Regions from separate parts of the Homo sapiens genome. Here region 2 is reported to be linked to region 1. Evidence: microRNA targets listed by miRTarBase, many of them from high-throughput screens and not tested one by one. Region 1 holds a microRNA gene; the other region holds the end of a gene's coding sequence.
What was found. The annotated mature microRNA hsa-miR-3661 reads UGACCUGGGACUCGGACAGCUG and lies in region 1 at 3,151-3,172, opposite strand. An mRNA with a match to its seed (bases 2 to 7 or 8) in the 3' UTR can be bound and repressed. Matches are read on the target gene's strand: a 7mer-m8 pairs with bases 2 to 8, a 7mer-A1 pairs with bases 2 to 7 and ends in A, and an 8mer does both.

Region 2: miRTarBase lists WDR45B as a target of hsa-miR-3661. Seed matches in the 3' UTR shown: 7mer-m8 at 4,061-4,067.

What each region holds. Positions count from the first base shown.
Region 1 is chr5:134,223,576-134,228,948 of GRCh38, reverse strand. It overlaps MIR3661 (microRNA 3661), which reads right to left and starts at 3,192; the gene lies at 3,097-3,192. PPP2CA (protein phosphatase 2 catalytic subunit alpha) reads left to right here and starts at 2,876. Exons shown (of 7, transcript NM_002715.4): 1 at 2,876-3,189. The coding sequence starts at 3,088. PPP2CA-DT (PPP2CA divergent transcript) reads right to left here and starts at 2,539. Exons shown (of 1, transcript NR_186539.1): 1 at 1-2,539. RefSeq lists enhancers at 1,576-2,095, 1,937-2,096, 2,096-2,617, 2,618-3,137, 3,477-3,586.
Region 2 is chr17:82,610,909-82,616,281 of GRCh38, forward strand. It overlaps WDR45B (WD repeat domain 45B), which reads right to left. Exons shown (of 10, transcript NM_019613.4): 10 at 3,654-5,117. The coding sequence ends at 5,011. Among named protein-coding and RNA genes, the nearest start is that of FOXK2-AS1, 25 kb to the left of the region's middle.

The sequences.
Region 1 (5,373 bases):
CTTTCTCAAAGCATATTTGCTTTATTTACTCTCTGGTGTTTCCCAATAAATTAAAAAGACAATTCTTTTTGGTTTGCTTTAAATTTTTTGTTCCAAATATTCTTCAGCTCTAGAATTGAGTCAGTGAGGTCAAATTAGTCAAGACCAGATAAGTCAAAATGAATTTTCATTTTCATGTCCATTAGATATTTTGTTCTACAGAATACACAATCTGAATTTCTTCTAAAGAAAAATATATCCTGATTAATTTACTTCTGTATTGTTTATGATCATGTATGCTTTACTTCACTGTCTGATGCTAAGAGCTTCCTAGAATTCATTCCTTAAGAAGTTAAGTCATGGCATTTAATTATTTGGCAGGATGTTTTAAGTACATATAATTATTATATCTTCCCTCCATTTTGTGATGGTGGTGAGCCAAGTAATCTGCATCAAGAGAAAATAAATAACACCTACATTAATGCTACCAACAAGGGGCTCACAGTACTTTGGAAAAACTCATAATTTTAGCACACAGTGGGTGTTCAATACTTCATCATCTATCAAACTAACATCACCACACCCTTTCCAGGTAAGAGAATCTAGGCAGGCTGGGTGCGGTGGCTCACACCTGTAATCCCAGCACTTTGGGAGGCTGAAGCAGGCGGATCACCTGAGGTCAGGAGTTTGAGACCAGCCTGGCCAACGTGGCGAAATCCGTCTCTACTAAAAATATAAAAATTACCCGGGCATGGTGGCGGGTGCCTGTAATCCCAGCTACTTGGGAGGCTGAGGCAGGAGATTTGCTTGAACCTGGGAGGCAGAGTTTGCAGTGAACCGAGATTGCACCACTGCACTCCAGCCTGTGCAACAGAGTGAGACTCTGGCTCAAAAAAAAAAAAAAAAAAAAAAAAAAAAGAGAGAGAATCTAGGCAAAGAGAAATAATGTTGATTCTGTTCCATATGTCAGACCTTGGAAGGTCAACTGCATGACTGTGGCTGAGACTTTGTACTTGGGAGTGTGCAGTTTTAAATCCTGACCACTATCTTAGGCAAGTCCCTTCTCTTTTCTGAGTGCCTGTCTGCTTCTTGCCCCATCAGACAGTTCTCACACAGGTTCATGGCAACGGTAAAGAATAAGATTAGACAGCACACTGGGTATGGCTTTATAATCACGGGCACTAAGTGATGATTTTTTCCTTATTCATTCCACTTGGTCTTAACTCTTACCCTTCTATTGTTTGGGGATGTTAACTGCAAAACAGGGACAGAATTTGGGCTAAAGGGTCTTTTTCCCAGTCTGGTAAATTAAGTATGTGATAAGACTTCTAGAAGAGTAGATTTAAGGTACTTTCTTTTGTGCACACTAATGGGAGGTGTGAAGGGAAAGCAGAATTGCAATTTCCAGCCTAGGGAGGCCAAGCCAGTCGGCCTTGCCAAACACGTTGTCTTGGATAAAGGAGGATTTTCAGTCCTGCTATTGGCTGATGGGGCCTCCAGTGCCTTCTTCAGCCTGTTGGTGGGGATGATGCCCTCAGAGCCGCAGAGTGAGCAGTCTCCTCCCAAGCATCGCTGAGCACTTGGGTGTGGAAGGGTTGCCTGATACTGAGGGTGGGGTTCCTGGAAGACAGGCGATCAGGTTCAGCTCTTGCCTTGCCCTTTATGGTTAAATGTTCTTTGGAAAGCTTCTATATCTTTCAAATCCTGGGGGCATTATGATCTCTCTTCTGCCTATCCCAAACCATCTTCAGCCAGTACTGTTGGGAGAATACAAGCTCCAGGGCATGGTCCCTGGTCCGTCTGGATGACCCCTCCGGATCTGGCATATAGCTGGCGCTCTATGGAACCAGATATTTATGTAAAAGCAGGGACAATGGAATGTGAAAACGTTTCGCAAACTCCAAAGCGATTCATAACCAGACAGAGGTCCAATCCTAGGGTATACGAGCTCTCTCTTTTAAGCACGTATCACAGCTGCTTCTCACGCCACCGAGACGCGGTCAGGACAGGTGCATCCATCTTCTCTGGGCTTCCCCTCTTGAAAGTAGGCCAGGGCGCGCAGGGGTTGAGGGTCTCTCATTCCCAGAGAGAATTAAACTTGGAGGAAAGCAACCACCGGCGAGGAGCGGGGCGCGTGGAAGCGAGCCGCGGTCCGAGGCCCAAAGAAAAGCCCAAGCCTCGCCCCCGCCATCGCGCCCGACGAGACACCTAGGTCCGGGGACGGGTGTGTGCCGCGGAAGTCAGGTGCACTGCGCAGCACTCCCCCGGTAGGTACACGCTCCTCCACCTACGAGTGACCTAATTACAAGGTGCCAGCCGCGCCCAGAGGTGGGGGTGGTTAATCCAAGCGGCCACTCGCTGCCCGTTCCTGCCCCCAAAGATGACGGAAACCCACACGATTACAGAGCCGCAGCACCCCAGATGAGCCACGGGGTCGCAATTCTCGTTTCCGTGATCGGACTGCCAGGCCCCAGGTGAGGAGCTGAGTTCATCACCAGAGCGGCCTTCCCAGGGGAACCAGTTACAGGCTGCCAGTGGCCCCGGCTTCCATCCGGTCTGCGCCTGCGCGCGGCCCAAGCCCTCGCCTCTCCTGGAATAGTGCTCAGGGATTAGTCCGGTTCGCCGCTGTGCGCACTGCGCATGCTCCAGCTCCATCCTTCCCTTCCCCCACCACCCCGCCCTCCGGGAGCCACGCCCAAAAAGTCAAGGCGCTTCAGTTACCAGCCGGCTACGTCGCGCCTGCGCTTTGACCCCCAGTTTGCGCCCCAACTCCGGTCGTGCGGCCGCCCGGGGAGGGCTCTGCAGTTGCGCAGCTTGCTCCCCGGCCCTTTTCCCCTCCGCTCCCCGCCGCCTCCTGACGCCGGGCGTGACGTCACCACGCCCGGCGGCCGCCATTACAGAGAGCCGAGCTCTGGAGCCTCAGCGAGCGGAGGAGGAGGCGCAGCGGCCGACGGCCGAGTACTGCGGTGAGAGCCAGCGGGCCAGCGCCAGCCTCAACAGCCGCCAGAAGTACACGAGGAACCGGCGGCGGCGTGTGCGTGTAGGCCCGTGTGCGGGCGGCGGCGCGGGAGCAGCGCGGAGCGGCAGCCGGCTGGGGCGGGTGGCATCATGGACGAGAAGGTGTTCACCAAGGAGCTGGACCAGTGGATCGAGCAGCTGAACGAGTGCAAGCAGCTGTCCGAGTCCCAGGTCAAGAGCCTCTGCGAGAAGGTGAGCTGTAGTACGGCTGCGGACAGCCGCCGCGGGGCCGAGCCCGCCGAGGAAAAGGCGGCCGTGAGGAGGGTGCAACATGGCGGAGGCCGCCGGTCCGGGCCCCCCGAGTCTCCGAGACCGGCGCCCATCCTGGCCGGCGGCGGCTTCCTAACGACCCGGCGCCCCCTGCCTCCCGCGCAGGGATTGGTTGCCGCCGCCGCCTAAAATGGCGCCGTTCACTCGACTCCTGGGCTTTTGAGTCAGCCGGCCTTGGCGCCAGACGAGGTGGCAGGGGGAGCGGAGACCCTGTGGGTCATCGTCAGGGACGGTTTTGAGGGTGAGCTGGCTTGGATTCTGCGGCTTGGGAATGGAGCCTGGGCCTCTCCGGTGGGCTGAGTAAGAGTCTTGCCGCTGGTACCCAGGCCTAGTTAGGTCCAGAGCTGCCCAGAGGATCCCCCAAAGGCAGTCTTGTTAGGCCGTATCCCAGAACATACCTAAAGGTCACACAGCTTTAGTACCCCTTGGTGGTTTGTATTAAACTCACCAAGCGATCTTCTCCAGAAATCAAGGTAAGGGGTGTCTTTAAGAATTTTTAAATTATTCTCTTAACCTAATTTTTACGAAGGTCATGGTGGTAGCTATAAGGGAGGAGTGTAACTTATTTTTCATAGTTGGAAGAAATCGGGAATTTGGTGAGTCATACTACATAAGGAGCTTTTGGATTGGAAATCAAGTGTCGGTTGAATATGATTTATATGCTGACTCAAAGCCTTCTCTAAGCTTAACACACTTGGCATTTTGCCGTTTATTTTTAAAATGAACAACATAAAATGGAAGAGCGGTAAATTTTGTATCTTTGTTGCAAAAATTACTTGATAGTATTTTGTGGCTGCAAGTAGTAGTAGTGATAATAACTGTCGACTGAGATTGTATTCCAGACATTGTGCTTAGTGTTTAAATAATGTCTCACATACACTGAAAATAGAATGTTGTAGTCCACTTAGTAACACTAAACTTTATATTAGCTAATTCCCTTTTGTTTTCCCCTGGGGGTTGGGGAAACAGGTAGTTAATTTAGCTATTAGCTTTGTGTTGTATTTTTAAATTCTTGTAACTCAGTTTTCTAAAGTACACAAAATGCTGATCTCTGCTGTGAACATTTTAACTTCCCTTTTCAAAATTAACTTTGCAGCACGTCACTTTAGTACAGAATAGTGGAGTATCATATTAGCATTTTGTATCCGTGAAAAGAATTAATGGAGAACTATTATCCTGATTTGTTTCTGGTTTGATGTGAAAATTAGGTTCATGAGTTTGACGTATATGTTTCCAAGACAGGCTTTTTTAGAAACCATGTTGTGAACAATTGGAATTTAAGTAAGTCAGATTTAGATTTGTTTCTCCCAAGCCTGAACAAAACTACTACTAGTGGATGAGGTGGCACATCATCTGTTGGAGATGCCTTTTAATGGTAGCGATGTATTGAATCTCCTGTTTCTTTACCCTCTCACGTCAAATGAGGTTGGTATTTATTTTAAAGGTTTAAAATTGGCCTTTAAAAATGAATGTATATTGCCAGGTCTTAATTTCTAGGTACTGTACATGATGATCTTACCGATTTTTGGAATTCAGTGCATTATATGAAAGACTTTTAAGTCAGTAGTTGGCCAGTTGACTAGTCTTTTGAAGAAAACGTGGAAAGGAGGGAGGTAATGACGTAACTGGAAGACTGGACTGCGAGTTAGATTTGGACATGAGTCCTTCTGCTCTTACTTGAGTAATTGTGACAGACTTTGGGACAGCCACTTCACTTGTCCTTGTTTTCCTGTCTATAAACTAAAATGTGTTCTGAGATTATACAGTCAATTCCGTTTTAAATTAGTAGTGTGTTTAATATTGAACATCTATTGAATATCTAAGATTGCATACTCTTTTGAGGGAAATGAAAAGCAATGAAGAATAAGTATGCTTATTGTCGAGGAGCTATGAATCTAGTTTGAAAGAAAAGCATGGTATGAAAAGGTGTGGGAGATGGAGCATGGAAGTAGAGGGTTTGTGTTGGAAACTGTTGTAGAAGATAAGATAATACTGGATGCTAGAGTGGGGTGGGTGAAGCTGATGCATCTAATATTGCTTTCCACATCTTTGTAAAACTAAGATGTAGTGAGGTAAATCTCCATTGCTTGCGCTGCTTACGCAAAT
Region 2 (5,373 bases), not on the chromosome of region 1:
AGGTGGAGGCAGGAGAATTTCTTGAACCCGGGAGGTGGAAGTTGCAGTGAGCCGAGGTTGAGCCACTGCACTCCAGCCTGGGAGACAAAGCGAAACTCCGTTTCAAAAACAAACAAACAAAACATAAAGAAATTAGCCAGGCATGGTGGTGCATGCCTATGGTCCTAGCTATTTGGGAAACTGGAGCAGAAGGATCACTTGAGCCCAGGAGGGCGAGGCTGCAGTGAGCCTTGATTGCACCCCGGCACTCCAGCCTGGGTGACAGAGCCAAAAAAAAAAAGAAAAAAAGAAGCACGGCTGGGCACGGTGGCTCACACCTGTAATCCCAATACTTTGGGAGGCTGAGGTGGGAGGACTGCTTCAGGCCAGGTGTTCAAGACCAGCCTGGAGAACACAGACACCGTCTCTACAAAACAATAACAAAAATTAGCCGGGCGTGGTGGTGCACGCCTGTAGTCCCGGCTACTCAGGAGGCTGAGGTGGGAGGATCACGTGAATCCAGGAGACAGAGGTTGCAGTGAGCTGAGATTGCATCACCACACTCCAGCCTGGAGTGAGACCCTGTCTCAAAAAAAAAAAGGATAGGCAGCTGTCGTATATGCTGATAATGGTAAAAATAATGTGAGACATAAGTTCAAGTCCCTTGTGCAAATACTGAAACTGAGGTAGAAAAATGCTGATTTTCTGGAGTTACACTCTGCTATCAAGGTCAGGAGGACACCCTTTTCCACAGTATCTGGCCAGATCCTTGCCTGTTTTTTCCACATACCCGAGAGAGATTAGGAGATAATTAGCCCTCAGCTCGCATGCCCCAGAAGCGTCGTCAGACTCACCATCTGAAACATCTTACACAGATGACAGGCTTCTGGCTGGCAGCCAGCATGGACAACTCAAGATGGGGCCGCAGGTGTCTGTGGGAGGCTCAGAGCAAATGTCGGGGGATTCACGGCCTCTACAGACGGTGGCGTCTCTCTTGAACAGAGCTACAAAAGAAATGACATTTCACTAGATGCCACCTCAGTCTCAAGTCTACATTTGCTTTTGTTAAAACCCATTGTATGTCTACATTTTGGTGGATGTTGCGTAAGACAAATCATTTTAAAATTAATGCCAAAACCACAAAATCACTAACCTGATACGAAATTCCAGAATGCGGCAAGAATATTACAAGCTAAATTAGAAATAAGAATCCTCTATACATATACATCCAAAAAAAAAAAAAATCCCCAAGTATTAGTAGAATTCTTTTTTTTTTTTCCTGAGATAGAGTCTCTGTCACCCAGGCAGGCGTGCAGTGCTGCGATCTCGGCTCACTGCAGCCTCCATCTGCCCGGTTCAACTGATTCTCCTGCCTCACGCTCCCAAGTAGCTGGGACTACAGGCACGCGCCACCACGCCTGGTTAATTTTTGTATTTTTAGTAGAGACAGGGTTTCACCATGTTGGCCAGGCTGGTCTCGAGCTCCTGACCTCAGGTGATCCACCCACCTCAGGCTCCCAAAGTGCTGGGATTACAGGCGTGAGCCACCGCGCCTGGCGAATTCAGCAGTATTTAAGGATAACACACTGTGACCAAGTGGGCTTTCCCACAGGACAGCAAGGTTGGCTCAACATTCAAAAATCAACGTGATGCTCCACGTTCACGGCGTAAAAGATAGGTGTGATCATCACAACAGATGCAGAAAAGTCACTTAACAAAATTCAACAGCCATTCCTAGCGGCAGGCAGGGTCACCCCCAAGTCCCCACTCAATAAAGGAAAATCAGGAGGCATCCTCCAAGAAGACCCAGATGCTGGAATCGGCAGACAAGGACTTGAAAGCGCACAGAGCGCGTACAAATGGGCAGACACAAGTCATCAGCCACGAATTAGAAACCAACTTTAGAACTGACAAATGTATCTGAAATAAAAAAGGCGGCCAGGCGTGGTGGCTGTAATCCGAGCACTTTGGGAGGCCAAGGTGGGAAGATCGCTTGAGCCCAGGAGGTGGAGGAGAAACCCCGTCTCTACCAAAACAATTTTTTAAATAAAAATAGATGTTACGTTCAGGTGTGGGGTTGTCTGAGAGTGATCTTCTCTGGAGGTAGAAACACGGGGCAATTTTGCTTACAAATTTATATTTTTCTATTATTTTATAAGGAACTTTTTTTTCATTGTATTCTCTGATCCATCTGGAAGAGAAAAATTTTGGTACAAGTTTCAACAATGTCATCAACCAAATGCCTCTGACACAACAGAAGAGAGATGAGGACTAAGTCACGTGAAAGAGCTCTGGCATTCAGGGGCTTGGTTTGGTTGCAGAAAGAAAACACAAATATAAAACTCTTTGATCACAGAAGGCTGCAGATGGCCAGCGCCCCCGACTACAGTGGTGGGAGCGGGAGGTGGCCAGGGGTTCACACAGGCATCAACGCCAAACACAGGGTGGGTATGGGTCAGGGCTGCGTTCCACAGGGCACAAGCCGCCTGTCCCCGCAAGACATCCCAGGGCCACAGGGGAGGGAGGACAGACCAGAAACGCAGCCGGAGTCATCCATGCCCACGCACCTGTACGATCAGACAGGAAAGCTGCTGAGTAGGCACCGTCTGAGGCAGTCACTCTGGAGTCCCTTCGCACCCACGTCCGGGGCACAGGAGGTTCGTGGGGGAGGCAGCAGCCCGGCCTTGTTTCCCATACACTGCGCTTCCCATCAGTTCCACTTGAAAAGCAGCTGCGCTCCCGAGTCCGCCGGCCTAGGGACACCGTGTCCTTGCCGCTCTACAGTGATTTTTAAAAAGCACATGCCTGGGGAGGGCCGGTGCCGCCAGGGCCTCACATGAGGCACGTCCGTGCAGGCCCTCGCCACGTTCCTGGTGAACGGGCCTGTGACACAGCCCCGCCGTCCGCATCAGTTCTGAGGCTGTTCACGTGCACTGCGAGAAAACCCACCCTTCTTGCATGCATTTCCCCCAGATTCATGTTTATCAACTGGTAATTACGCTCCTACTCCCCCACCCAGAGTCAGATCTCAAGTGTTAGACAAGCCAGGGTGACGCCGGCTCACTTGAAGCTGCCACTTCAACATGCAGGGACATTGCTGCTGCCAGCCACCCTCCACCTCCACAGGCCAGCAGGAGCCTCAGACCTCCCAGAGCCACACAGGCCTCCTACAGATGCATTTCCTCCCTCCCTCCTCCAGAGGTGCCCTTGGGGCACAGGGAGAGAGGAGGGCAGGCCGCCCCGTCCCGACACAGGGAGAGAGGAGGGCAGGCCGTCCCATCCCCGACACAGGGAGAGAGGAGGGCAGGCCGCCCCGTCCCGCCACAGGGAGTGAGGAGGGCAGGCCGCCCCGTCCCGCCACAGGGAGTGAGGAGGGCAGGCCGCCCCGTCCCGCCACAGGGAGTGAGGAGGGCAGGCCGCCCCGTCCCGACACAGGGAGTGAGGAGGGCAGGCTGTCCTGTCCCGACACAGGGAATGAGGAGGGCAGGCTGTCCTGTCCCGACACAGGGAGTGAAGCTCCAGGCTCCGCACCCAGTGACCCTGGCTTCCACCTTGTCCTGTCACAGGCCGGCGCCTCTTCAGGCCCACAGGCTGTTCTGAAGCCTACACTCCAACCAGATTCTCACAGCAAGGGGAAGAGTGTTTGGCTTCATAACACACAATTCTACTTCCCATTACAGGTCCAGACTACAACAAAATTAGTCACTTTTATTTAAAAGAAACATTACAAATAAGTGTGCAAAATTAAACATCATGATTAAATACACATGAAAGGAACATGCATACTTTACAGCAACATCCACAGAGAATTAGCTGATTACATGACAGTGACAGTAAAGAACTAAAGAAACCGGCAAAACCGAGAACTCGCTGCTATGCAGGTTTTACATGTTTGCAATCTGAAATCAAAACCATAAAATAGAGTTTAACGGGAATTTAAGAAAATTAAATATATATCCCAAGTAGCTGACAATGTAGAGCCCATAACCTAGTTACCAAATGTTAAAAAAAGTTATGTGCCTCTCCTTCCCAAAATGTTAGTGTGTAGCTATTCTTACAAATGAGGGGAGGGGAGACGGTGGACCTGGGGGCTCGGAGGCCAGACCAGGGCATTTCCCTCCACACCAGCGGGAACTGCATGGACCCTCCCAGACCCTGCTCTGGCAGACGACCCCGAAGTTAAAGGATGTTTTCCCCATAACGAATGTTCAAAGTTCGTGCATCACTCTGCTGTTCCCTACACATAACCGGGAAACAGGTTTAATCCAAAATGTAACCAGGAGACCCCCCGTCCCCGCCCCGCACACGCCTGAGGTGTGACGGCTCGGCTTCTAGAGTGGCCTGGTGTCTGCCTCATTCTAATGGCCCCAACGGAGACGGGGACGCCACGCACGGGCACAGGTGACGTCACGGGCACAGATGACCACGTTGCGGGTACGGAGAAGACCACAGGCTGGGCTCACACGAGGGGAAACATTCACACTGTGTTCTCTCTACAGGGTCAGGTCATTTTTCTTCATGTTCGGGCGGGAAAAGGAATTCCTTTCTCCTTTTCTAAGGCAAGCTGCTGGTGTTGTATTCAATCTGCTTATCATGTAAGAACTTACATCTGCACACTTGTTCACTCCCCCGCTGCAGACTCAGTAAGAACGACGGAATCTGCTGCAAAAACAAACCTGAACTCGTCCACCCTCTCAGCCCAGTCCCCAGGTCCGTATGGAGCCCCCGTCAGTGTGAGGATGCGGCGGAGCCACTGAAGCTAACGTCACAGCTGAACTCATGGGAACAGCCAGTGGCCGCCAGTCGAGCTGGTCACAGCCACTGAGTTACCTACGGTGCCTTGATGATGATTCTCTCTTTAATACTGGAAATGGGAGTCCTTAGGAAAGCAGACAACCACGTATGGCTTCGAGACCAAGGTCCCTGGGCAGCCCCTCCAGCCCGTGGCCCAGGAGGCCCCTGGGGCACTGGCACCAGCCCCGAGAGTCTGAAGGCGGCAGGTGGTGGGTGCTGTGGCGCCCCCAGCTGGAGTCACAGCTTGTCATCGGTCATCTCTAGAAACTGCGCGTAGACATCTCGGATGCACTCCCCCTTGGGGTTGAACAGGAATTTGTAGTAGCTGCCGTCTGCACAAATTGCTGGGATAGAAGGAGACCATTTTACCTGTGTGTTTCTTTCCCTCAAGTTAAAAGCAACGAGTCCCACTGAGCTGAACTGCAAAGGGCCTCTTGGAGCCAGGCAGCTGCTCTGAAAGCCCTGAAAGGCCCCAGGGTCCCCACTGAATGCGTTCGGTCGGCACCGTGGCCGGGAATCCTGACTGTCTTGGTGTGAGCATCTAATCACCCGGTGTTGGCTACAGGGTTAAGAAACATTCTTGGTCATCTATACAAACAT